Regions from separate parts of the Homo sapiens genome. Here region 1 is linked to region 2. Evidence: fine-mapped expression QTL. A gene starts in region 2. The other region holds a variant in brackets. All regions are shown on one strand. Distances are between the middles of the regions. Region 1 overlaps SAE1 (SUMO1 activating enzyme subunit 1). Region 2 holds the start of TMEM160 (transmembrane protein 160).

What was found. PIP is the estimated chance that this variant, and not a neighbour inherited with it, causes the effect.
Region 1: its variant is the best candidate, but not a certain one, in a credible set for the expression of TMEM160 in monocytes (Fairfax 2014, PIP 0.67).

Annotation. Positions count from the first base shown.
Region 1 is chr19:47,161,385-47,166,757 of GRCh38, forward strand. All of the region lies in intron 5 of SAE1 (SUMO1 activating enzyme subunit 1), which reads left to right. LOC124904730 (a long non-coding RNA gene) reads left to right here. Exons shown (of 2, transcript XR_007067277.1): 2 at 1-1,924. Among named protein-coding and RNA genes, the nearest start is that of SAE1, 33 kb to the left of the region's middle. The variant G/A (reference allele first, on the strand shown) is at 2,070.
Region 2 is chr19:47,046,480-47,051,852 of GRCh38, forward strand. It overlaps TMEM160 (transmembrane protein 160), which reads right to left and starts at 2,145. Exons shown (of 3, transcript NM_017854.2): 1 at 1,928-2,145; 2 at 114-206. The coding sequence starts at 2,135. RefSeq lists enhancers at 1,573-1,642, 2,152-2,446, 2,570-3,087, 3,088-3,605 and a silencer at 1,923-2,112.

The DNA of each region.
Region 1 (5,373 bases), 110 kb after region 2:
AACACTATCCGCCTTAAAAACACAAATATTTTTGGTACTTTTGTACCAATCTGTATGCTGTTTCTCTATCTTCTACTTCTTCTCCCTGTACCCTCACCAGGTAAGTAACCCCAGAGCTGCTGGTACATTTGTGTGGATTAAAAAAGACACCTGGAAGGGGCAGATACAGCCCTGCTTGACTTCCTGTTTTATCACGTGTTTATAAATCTAAACAATGACATGGAACTTATTATACAATATTTTAGGCATAAATTAAGAATGATTTCGCTCACCATCATAGACCTACCACTCAATTTGAAGCATCAAACATTACTGGTATGGTGAGGCCCTCTGGCTGTCCCTCCAACAGAAGTTACCACCCTCCTCAGTTGGGTTTCTCATTCCTATGCATTTCTTCTTACTACTTATGTATGTATTTCCAAGCAACACATAGAATTGCTTTGCATGCTTTTTATCTTCTTAAAAATTGGTTTTATATTGTATGCATGGTGCCACCTGCTTTTAAGGAGAAGCAACACGTTTGTGAGGCCATCTGTTTATATGTTGTTCTAGGGCTTTGCTGTCCATTTTGGTAGCCACTAGCCACAGCTGGCTGTTTAAATTAATTAAAATCAAATCAAATCAAATATTTAGTTCCTCAGTCTCACTGGTCACATTTCAAGTGGCCAGTAAGCACATGTGGCCATTGGCATCTGTATTGCATAGCACAGATTACATTCTGTTCCATCATCACAGCTAGTTCTCTTGGACAGCCCTGCAGGGCATTTCTTTTTGGTTTTTGTTTTGTTTTTATTTTTGTTTTTTGCTAGAGTCTTTGTTGTGTAAATACATTACTATTTTATATCCATTTTTCTATTTATAAGCATTTGGGTATGCTCATAATTTGCTGTTACAAATTGTGCTGCATAAGCATTTTGTTTGTGTGTGTATAGATGATCTCCTTGGGCAATTGTGTTAATTTCTCTTGGGTATATACCTGGGAGTAAAATTAAGATAAGGGCATTTTCAGCTTTACCAGACCCCGTTAAGTTACTCTCAAGTGGTTTTATCAATTTATATTCTAGAACCAACATTATGTATCAGTAACATTTGGTAACTTCAGGCGTTTTTTTTCCATTCTGCTGAGTGTGAAAAATGTGTTTTGATTATGGTTGTCATTTGTTAGAATACTTTGTTAAAGCTTTTTAAAGATTCTTGGTCCCTCTACCCTCCCCACCCCCTACCCCAGGAATTTTGATTGGGTAGGACCTGGGGATTATATTCATCTTTATATGCAGAATTATATTACTTGTTACTGTTAGGCCTGATTTAAGAAGTAAAATAAGGCTGGGTGCAGTGGCTCATGCCTGTAATCCCAGCACTTTGGGAAGCCAAAGTGGGCACATCACTTGAGCCCAGGAGTTTGAGACCAGCCTGGGCAATGTGGCTAAAACCCCTTCTCTACCAAAAATACAAAAATTAGCTGGGCGTGGTAGCACGTGCCAGTGGTCTCAGCTACTGGGGAAGCTGAGGCGGGAGGATTGCCTGAGCCTGGCAAGTGTAGGCAGCAGTGAGCTGAGATTGTGCCACTGTAGTACATCCTGGGTGACAGAGCAACACACTGTCTCAAAAAAAAATTTTTTTTTAAGTAAAATAAGTTCATAATTCCAAATGTGGAAAATGCAGAACAAGTTAATGAAATGTTAATCCTACTACCAAATGATAACTATAACCTTCCTTTCAGTATTTTTCTATGTATATACAACAAAATTGGGGCACTGTTTAATACAGATAATATATATAGTTAGCTCTCCTTATTAATGGGCTTCACATTCATGGATTCAACCAACTGTGGATCAAAAATCTTTAGTGTGCTTGGAGTACATCCAAAAAAAAAAAAAGAAAATTGAAATTATGTTAATAATAAAATATTTGGGAAAAAACATTGCGTCTATCTGTACCAAACATGTACAGACTTTTTTTCTTGTCATTATTCCCTAAGCAATACAATATAACAACTGTTTACATAGCAATTCCATTAGGTATTATAAGTAATCTAGAGATGATTTAAAGTATATGGGAGGCCAGGC[G/A]CAGTGCCTCACGCCTGAAATCCCAGCACTTTGGGAGGCCAAGGCGGGTGGATCACTTGAGGTCAGGAGTTGGAGACCAGCCTGGCCAACATGGTGAAACCCCATCTCTAACAGAAATACAAAATTAGCTGGGCATGGTGGCTCACACCTGTAATCCCAGCTACTCAGGAGGCTGAGGCAGGAGAATCACTTGAACTTGGGAGGCAGAGGTTGCAGTGAGCCAAGATCGCACCGTTGCACTCCAGCCTGGGCGACAGAGCAAGACTCTATCTCAAAAATAAATAAATAAATAAAGTATATGGGAGGATGCACGTAGAGTATATGCAAGTACTGTGCCATTTATTTATTTAGAGACAGAGTCTTGCTTTATTGCCCAGGCTGGAGCGCAGTGGCGTGATCTCCGTCTCCCAGGTTCAAGTGATCCTCTGGCCTCAGCCTCCCGAGTAGCTGGGATTACAGGCTTGTGCTACCACACCCGGCTAAGTTTTGTATTTTAAGTAGAGGGCGTTTTCACCTTGTTCGCCAGGCTGGTCTCGAACTCCTGACCTCAGGTGATCCGCCCACATCGGCCTCCCAAAGTTTTGGGATTACAGGCGTGAGCCATTGCACCTGGCTTGTATATGTGTATATATATGTACATGGTTTTGTCTTTTGCTTTTTTCACTCAATAAGCATTCCCCAAATCTGCTTTGGAGCACATGATTTTATTTTATTTTTATTTTTTTATTTTTTTGAGACGAAGTCTCGATCTGTCGCCCAGGCTGGAGTGCAGTGGCGCAATCTCGGCTCACTGCAAGCTCTGCCTCCTGGGTTCACGCCATTCTCCTGCCTCAGCCTCCCGAGTAGCTGGGACTACAGACACCCGCCACCACACCCGGCTAATTTTTTGTATTTTTAGTAGAGACGGGTTTCACCGTGTTAGCTAGGATGGTCTCCATCTGCTGACCTCGTGATCCGCCCGCCTTGGCCTCCCAAAGTGCTGGGATTACAGGCATGAGCCACCACGTCTGGCCTGGAGCGCGTGATTTTAAATGTCTGTGTCATTTTTCCTCTTCTTGCCTAGCCATAATCTATTTTACCAGTCACCTATTGTATTGAGGTTATTGAGGTTATTGCAGTTTCCTACTATGCTAAATGGCTCCTGACAACAAATTTGATGGTTGATGGGCTATGTGGAGAATTCACCTTTTTTTTTTTTTTTTTTTTTTTTTTTGAGACAGAGTCTTTCTCTGTCACCCAGGCGGGAGTGCAGTGGCATGATCTCAGCTCACTGCAACCTCTGCCTCCCAGGTTCAAGCGATTCTCCTGCCTCAGCCTCCTGAGTAGATGGAACTACAGGCACCTGCCACCACGCCCAGCTAATTTTATTTTTGTATTTTTAGTAGAGAGGGGGTTTCACCGTGTTAGCCAGGATGGTCTCGATCTCCTGACCTCGTGATCCGCCTGCCTCAGCCTCCCAAAGTGCTGGGATTACAGGCGTGAGCCACAGTGCCCGGCTAATTTTTGTATTTTTAGTAGAGACGGAGTTTCACCATATTGGCCAGGCTGGTCTCGAACTCCAGACCTTGTGATCCACTCACCTTGGCCTCCCAAAGTGCTGGGATTACAGGCATGAGCCAAGTCTTTTTTTTTTTTTTTTTTTTTTTTTGAGACGGAGTCTTGCTCTCTTGCCCAGGCTGGAGTACAGTGGTTTGATTGTGATCTCGGCTCACTGCAACCTCAGCCTCCTGGGTTCAAGCGATTCTCCTGTCTCAGCCTCCCAAGTAGCTGGGATTACAGGCACATGCCACCATGTCCGGCTAATTTTTATATTTTTAGTGGAGACGGGGTTTCACCATGTTGGCCAGGCTGGTCTCGAACTCCTGACCTCAGGTGGTCTACCCACCTTGGCCTCCCAAAGTGCTGGGATTATAGGTGTGAGCCACCGCACCCGGCCTTGTTATTAGTCTTAACTAGATTGTTGATTGAAGTCCTTAAGCCCAGAAATGTATGTGAAGGATGGTGGAGAAGAGTGGCTCAGGCATTCTAGGCAGAGGTATTCTTGAGCTGAGGAAGTGGAGGAGAGGAGGTATGTAAGTTACCTGTTTTCAGGGGTTCATTCCAGTGGATAGTGGATGCCACTCCCTGGCAGACACTGTGGGTGCCTCACCTGAAAGACTCCTGATTCCCTGAAGGCATTGTCGGGTGTATTTTTTCTTTATAAGCGTAATGCCAGTGGAGTGGGTAAGACAGGTACCACCTTTTGCATCTGCTGCTACAGATTAGGCAGCTTGGTTAAGTTTTGTTTTGTTTTTAATTGTTATGAGTTAGTTTGAACCAAAAGGATTGTTAAGTGGAGTGTAAGAAGCACTGAATAACTACTGTTATCTGAGAGGAGTAGTAAAGACCAGGGCCACTGGGCAATCCCAGAGGCATTAGGAATTTGTGGCCTTTCCCTTTAGAGCATTGTCATTATGTGTATCTGCATCTCTGCATTCCAACTTTCACATTTTCAGTTCCCAGGAGAGAGAATCTGATTGGCCTGGTTGGGGTCCTGTGCCCACTTCTGGCTGTCACCTGTGGCTTTCTTCCCTCAGTTGTAGACCACACTCTGGATACCTGGGACCCCTGAAATCTCCTGCCCAGACAACCCCAAGCTTCTCAGGACTTTTTGTGGGCTGCTTCCCTGTTCTGCCTGTGCAGTGCAGGCCTTGTCACAATGTCTGAATGCTTAGGCCAGAGACGTGGGGGTTTGGTGAGAAAGGATGAGCTGGGTAGCTACACTCAAGTGCAGAGCCACCAGTATTGTGGGACAGAGCCAGGCATGGGAAGAGAAGTGGGCACGGATGGGGGCCAGCTTTCCCGATGTGCCTTAATCTGGCACAGAACTCCTAAGGAGTGTGAAAATTTCAAATTTGATCCAGGCCTTCCAGGTGGTTATGAAGAAGGCGAGTTTGTCAAGACAGGATAATACAATATACTTCATTTAATAGCTTGTTAGTGTGATTTATAACTAAATATGTAGACATCATATATGGGTCTTCATTCATACTCTTGCCCCAGGCCCTGAAAGTGTTAGCTAACAGGCAAGACCTGCCTGGGACTGAGATTCTAAAACACAACCTCCACCCCCAACTCCGTTTCATCATATAGTAGCCTAACATATTAGTTGGTTCGTTGCTTATAGTCAGGCAAACAACAAAGACTCCGAATTGAGCTCTTGGTAATTTTTGAAACCTGCCTGGTAATACTGTGTTTCCTCATTCTGATGGCATTCCCAGACCATATTGCAAATGACTTGATGTGTATTTTCAGACTTGTTGAG
Region 2 (5,373 bases):
TATACTTACTACTGGGAGTGGGATGGGGTAGGAGAGTCTACTCTCACCAGGGCAGGTGATAGGGGCTCTGCATTCCCTGGTTCCGTGGGGCGAGAGGGGGGGTCTGCACTCACCATATGCTGCTTCCCGACCCATGTCACTCTGCATGAAGGAGATGACCCCGATGCCCGATGCCAGGAGGCCATTGCGGAACCAGGAGAGGAAGGCTGGAGGGAGGGGGACATGGGGGGATTAACATCACCCCCAACCCTACCTCCTCAATCCCCCTTACCCAGTCAAACTGAGGGGCCTCCCTTCAGCTCACCCCATCCCATCCAGCCGCAAGGCAAGCCCATCCCAAATCCTCACCTCTTCCAGGAAGCCGCTCACCTAACCATATCCCCCCACATCCTCTCTGGCCTCCACCTCAGTGCCCCTCTCCCCCAAACTCTGTAACACTAAGGATTCAAGGGCCGGGTGTGGTGGCTCACCCCTGTAATCCCAGCACTTTGGGAGGCCAAGGCAGGCGGATCATGAGGTCAGGAGTTTGAGACCAGCCTGGCCAACATAGTCAAACCCTGTCTCTACTAAAAATGTTAAAATTAGCAGGGTGTGGTAGCACGTGCTTGTAGTCCCAGCTACTCAGGAAGCTGAGGGAGGAGAATCACTTGAATCCAGGAGGTAGAGGTTGCAGCGAGCCAAGATCATGCCACTGCACTCCAGCCTGGGCGACAGAGTGAGACTCCGTCTCAAAAAAAATAAAGGATTCAAGATAGTCCCTGCAGAATGTGGAGGACAATCTAGGGGCAAAGTTGCAGAACCTCCATCTGAGGAGTCATCTTGGCCAAACCCCTCCCTCTACGTGTACCCCCACGGCCTGCCCACTCACTTCTTTCTCAGAACTCTGGGACAAACTGTTTCCTAATCCAGGCCGCTCTTCAGCCTCGCCCTTCTTTTCCTTCAAATGCCGCCATCTCCTACCGAGTATGGCCTGGGCCAATCCCATCCATGTCCTACCGAGTATGGCCTGGGCCAATCCCACCCACGTCCGTCCCCATTCACGTCCTTTACAAACAGCCCACCACACCCTATATCTAGATGCCCGGTCCTGGCCTAGTGAGGTGACTCACACCTATAATCCCAGCACTTTGGGAAGCCAAGGCAGGAGGATTCTCTGAGCCCAAGAGTTCAGACCAGCCTGGGCAACAAAGCAAGACCCCGTCTCTACATAAATTAAAATAGTTGGGTGCGGTGGTGTATGCCTGTAGCTCCAGCTAAGCAGGAGGCTGAGGCAAGAGGATAGCTTGAGCCCAGGAGTTCAAGGCTGCAGTGGGCTACGATTGCGCCACTGCGGTCCAGCCTCGGTGACAGAGCAAGACACCGTCATTAAAAAAATAAAATTAAAAAAAAAACAAACATGGCCAGTCCGCTCCATTCTGGACCTCGCCTCCGTCACAAGCCCCGCCCTCTGCAGCCTAGATCACCTCCCCCTCCAATCAGCAGAGAGCTTTCTCCCGATTGGTTGTCCCCTTCTCCAATCCTGAACTTCCCCCTCTTCTGCGGGGATCCACACTCCCGCTCTCTGCACAGTGGTGGCCTCTGCAATCGGGATGGACCCATCTTGTACCCAACTCCACAGACCCTAAGCTCTCCCTGAAGCCCCTCTCCCCACGGCAGGCGCGATTCTACGAGGCTGCCTCGCGCAACCCTACCACCCCCTCCAATCCCTACGGCGCCCCGTTACCCGGGGTCCTCGTCCTCCCCGCAAGCCCATCCCCTCTGCGGGCACCTGCGCTCTTGCAGTCTGCGCTTCCGTGCGCTCACACTGAAGCCCTTCTCGGAGCCGAGCCCGGGCCCCGTTTCCTGCAGAAGCCCCCGCCCCATCAAGGTCCCACGCGAGCCCGGGACCCCCGTCCCATCCGCACCGCCCCCACCCCTAGCCACCGACCTGTCTCGTGCGCTTTTCGGAGGAGCCAGGCGTCCGCACGATCCAGCTCGGACACTGGGGGCGGCGAAGCCCCGGCGCGGGGACCGTGGCCGGGGGCGAAGGACCCCCGGGCGCCCCCGCTCCGGGGCCGCTGAGGCGGCAGTAGCGACCTCCGGAAGCGAAGACGGGCAAGGCGAGCGGCCCGAGCCCACCACCAGCCGCCTCCCATGATTCGCACTACGGCCGCCGCGCGCCGTACCGCCCCACCGGCCTCCGGTAGGTTGCAACCCATGTCACTCAGGATGAATGGCTTACCCATTGGCTATGCGCTCGCCACTCAGGTCCGGCGTGAACTGTCCATTGGTCGGAATGGCAGTGATTCCCTCCTCTGTCATCTAGGCCGGTAGTGCCCGTCCCTCCTTGATTTTGTACCGGACTACGAATCCCAGCGATCATTGCGCTCGGGGAAAGCCGATATTCAGAAGTCGCAGGCGAGATGTCTGCTGGGAATTGTAGTTTTAATTCTATCTTTTTTAACGGAGTACATGCCGAGCACCTATTGTAGTTGTTTCTTGGTTGTTTCTCTTTCTTTCTTTCTCTTTCTTTCTTTCTTTCTTTTTCTTTCTTTCTCTTTCTTTCTTTCCTTCTTTCTTTCTTTCTCTCTTTCTTTTTCCCTCCCTCCCTCCCTTCCCTCCCCTCCTTCCTTCCTTCCCTCCTTCCTTTTTTTTCCCCGCCCCGAGACCGAGTCTTGCTCTGTCGCCCAGGCTGGAGTGCAGTGGTGCGATCTCGGCTCACTGCAACCTCCACCTCCCGGGTTCAAGCGATTCTCCTGCGTCAGCCTCCTGAGTAGCTGGGATTATAGGCATGCGCCACCACGCCCAGCTAATTTTTGTATCTTTAGTAGAGACAGGGTTTCACCATGTTGGCCAGGCTGGTCTCGAACTCCTGACCTCAAGTGATCCAACCGCCTCGGCCTCCAAAAGTGCTGGGATTACAGGCGTGAGCCACCGTGCCCGGCCAGGTCTGTCTCTTTAAGACAGATTTGTTTTCTTTGCCCTAACCCATTCCGGGATTCAGCTTTGCCTTCTCTCATCAGCATAAACCTTTTCACTAGCCAGGAATGTGAAAAATGTGTCTGGAATATTTTCAATTTGCACTTAATCCCATTTAAAGCTTCACATTCATTGCAAGCCTGCAGGCTATGCAGTGCAGTCCATTTGAACTCCCTCCTCAAGTGTAACCCCCTTGCTAGCTCCCCTACTTTTCCTCTTCATAAAATCCAAGCCCGGGCCAGGCACGGTGGCTCACATCTGTAATCCCACCACTTTGGGAGTCTGAGGCGGGCAGATCACGAGATCAGGAGTTCGAGACCAGCCTGACCAACATGGTGAAACCCCATCTCTACTAAAAATACAAAAATTAGGCATGGTGGCAGGCACCTGTAATCCCAGCTACTTGTGAGGCTGAGGCAGGAGAATCGTTTCATGCGCGTCCATGTGAAGAGACCACCAAACAGGCTTTGTGTGAGCAAGATGGCTGTTTATTTCACCTGGCTGCAGGCAGGCTGAGTCCGAAAAGAGAGTCAGCAAAGGGTGGTGGATTATCATTAGTTCTTAGAGGTTTTGGGATAGGCGGTGAAGTTAAGAGCAATGTTTTGCGGGCAGGGGTGGATCTCACACAGTACATTCTCAAGGGTGGGGAGAATTACAAAGAACCTTCTTAAGGGTGGGGGAGATTACAAAGTACATTGATCAGTTAGGTGGGGCAGGAACAAATCACAATGGTGGAATGTCATCAGTTAAGGCTATTTTTACTTCTTTTGTGGATCTTCAGTTACTTCAGGCCATCTGGATGTATACGTGCAAGTCACAGGTGATGCGATGGCTTGGCTTGGGCTCAGAGGCCTGACATTTCTGCCTTCTTTTATTAATAAGAAAAATAAAACAAAATAGTGTTGAAGTCTTGGGGGGTGGTATGGAGAGAGAATGGGCGATGTTTCTCGGGGCTGCTTCAAGCAGGATTAGGGGCGGCGTGCGAACCTAAAGTGGGAGAGATTAAGCTGAAGGAAGATTTTGTGGTAAGGGGTGATATTGTGGGGTTGTTAGAAGAAACATTTGTTGTGTAGAAGTATTGGTGATGGCCTGGGTACAGTTTTGTATGAATTGAAAAACTAAATGGAATAAGAGAAGGAGAAAAACAGGTATAAAAGGTCTAAGAATTGGGAGGACCTAGGACATCTGATTAGAGAGTGCCTAAGGAGATTCAGCATAGTCCTGCCAGCAAAGATTATTTGTTTACTTCAGGAGTTAAGAGTGGCAGTTTGGGGATAGCATGAGGAGATATCAGCTGTGATGGCTTGGAGAAACAGTGTAAACCAGCAGTGTAAACAAGAGCAGGGCACGTATGAGTAGTTGAGAACGGAGAATAGGAGTATGACTAGACAGAAAATAGTAGGGATGACAAGTTTTTTTGGGGCACAGTCTAAGTTGGTCCGGTGTCTGGAATGAGACTGGGGCCTAATAAAAAGGATTGTCCATACAGGAGCTCAAATAGGCTGTACCCTGCAGCATTCTGAGAAGCAAAAGAGGTAAAAGTATTGTCCAGTCCTTTTTAAGTTGGTGGCTGAGCTTGGTGAGGTGTGTTTTTAAAAGACCTTTAGTCCGTTCTACTTTTCTTGAAGACAGAGGACCGTAAGGGATATAAAGGTTTCACTGAATACTAAGAGCCTGAAAAACTGCTTGGCTGATTTGACTAATAAAGGCTGGTCTGTTATCAGACTGTATAGAGGTGGGAAGGCTAAACTGAGGAATTATGTCTGACAGAAGGGAAGAAATGACTGCGGTGGCCTTCTCAGACCTTGTAGAAAAGGCCTGTACCTATCCAGTGAAAGTGTCTGCCTAGACTAAGAGGTATTTTGGTTTCCTGACTCGGGGCATGTTGAGTAAAGCTAATTTGCCAGTCCTGGGTGGGGGCAAATCCCTGAGCTTGATGTGTAGGGAAGGGAGGGGGCCTGAATAATCCCTGAGGAGTAGTAGAACAGCAGATGGAACACTGAGAAGTGATTTCCTTGAGGACAGATTTCCACGATGGAAAGGAAATGAGAGGTTCTAAGAGGCGGGCTCATGGCTTGTACTATAGCATAGCCTGCCTTTGCTGGTGTGTGGCGATTAGGCCTGGTGGAACTGCCATCAATAAATCAAGCGTGATCAGAGTGAGGAACAGGAAAGAAGGAAATATGGGGAAATGGGGTGAATATCAGGTGGATCAGAGAGATACAGTCATGGGGGTCAGGTGTGGTATCAGGAATAATGTGGGAGGCCAGATTGAAGTCCGGGCCAGGAACAATGGTAATTGTGGGACTTAAGAGTGAGTGCAGCTGAAGGAGCCGGGGAGCAGAAAGTACATGCGTCAGGTATGAGGAAGAAAATAGATTTTGGAAGTTATGAGAAATGTAGAGAGTGAGTTGA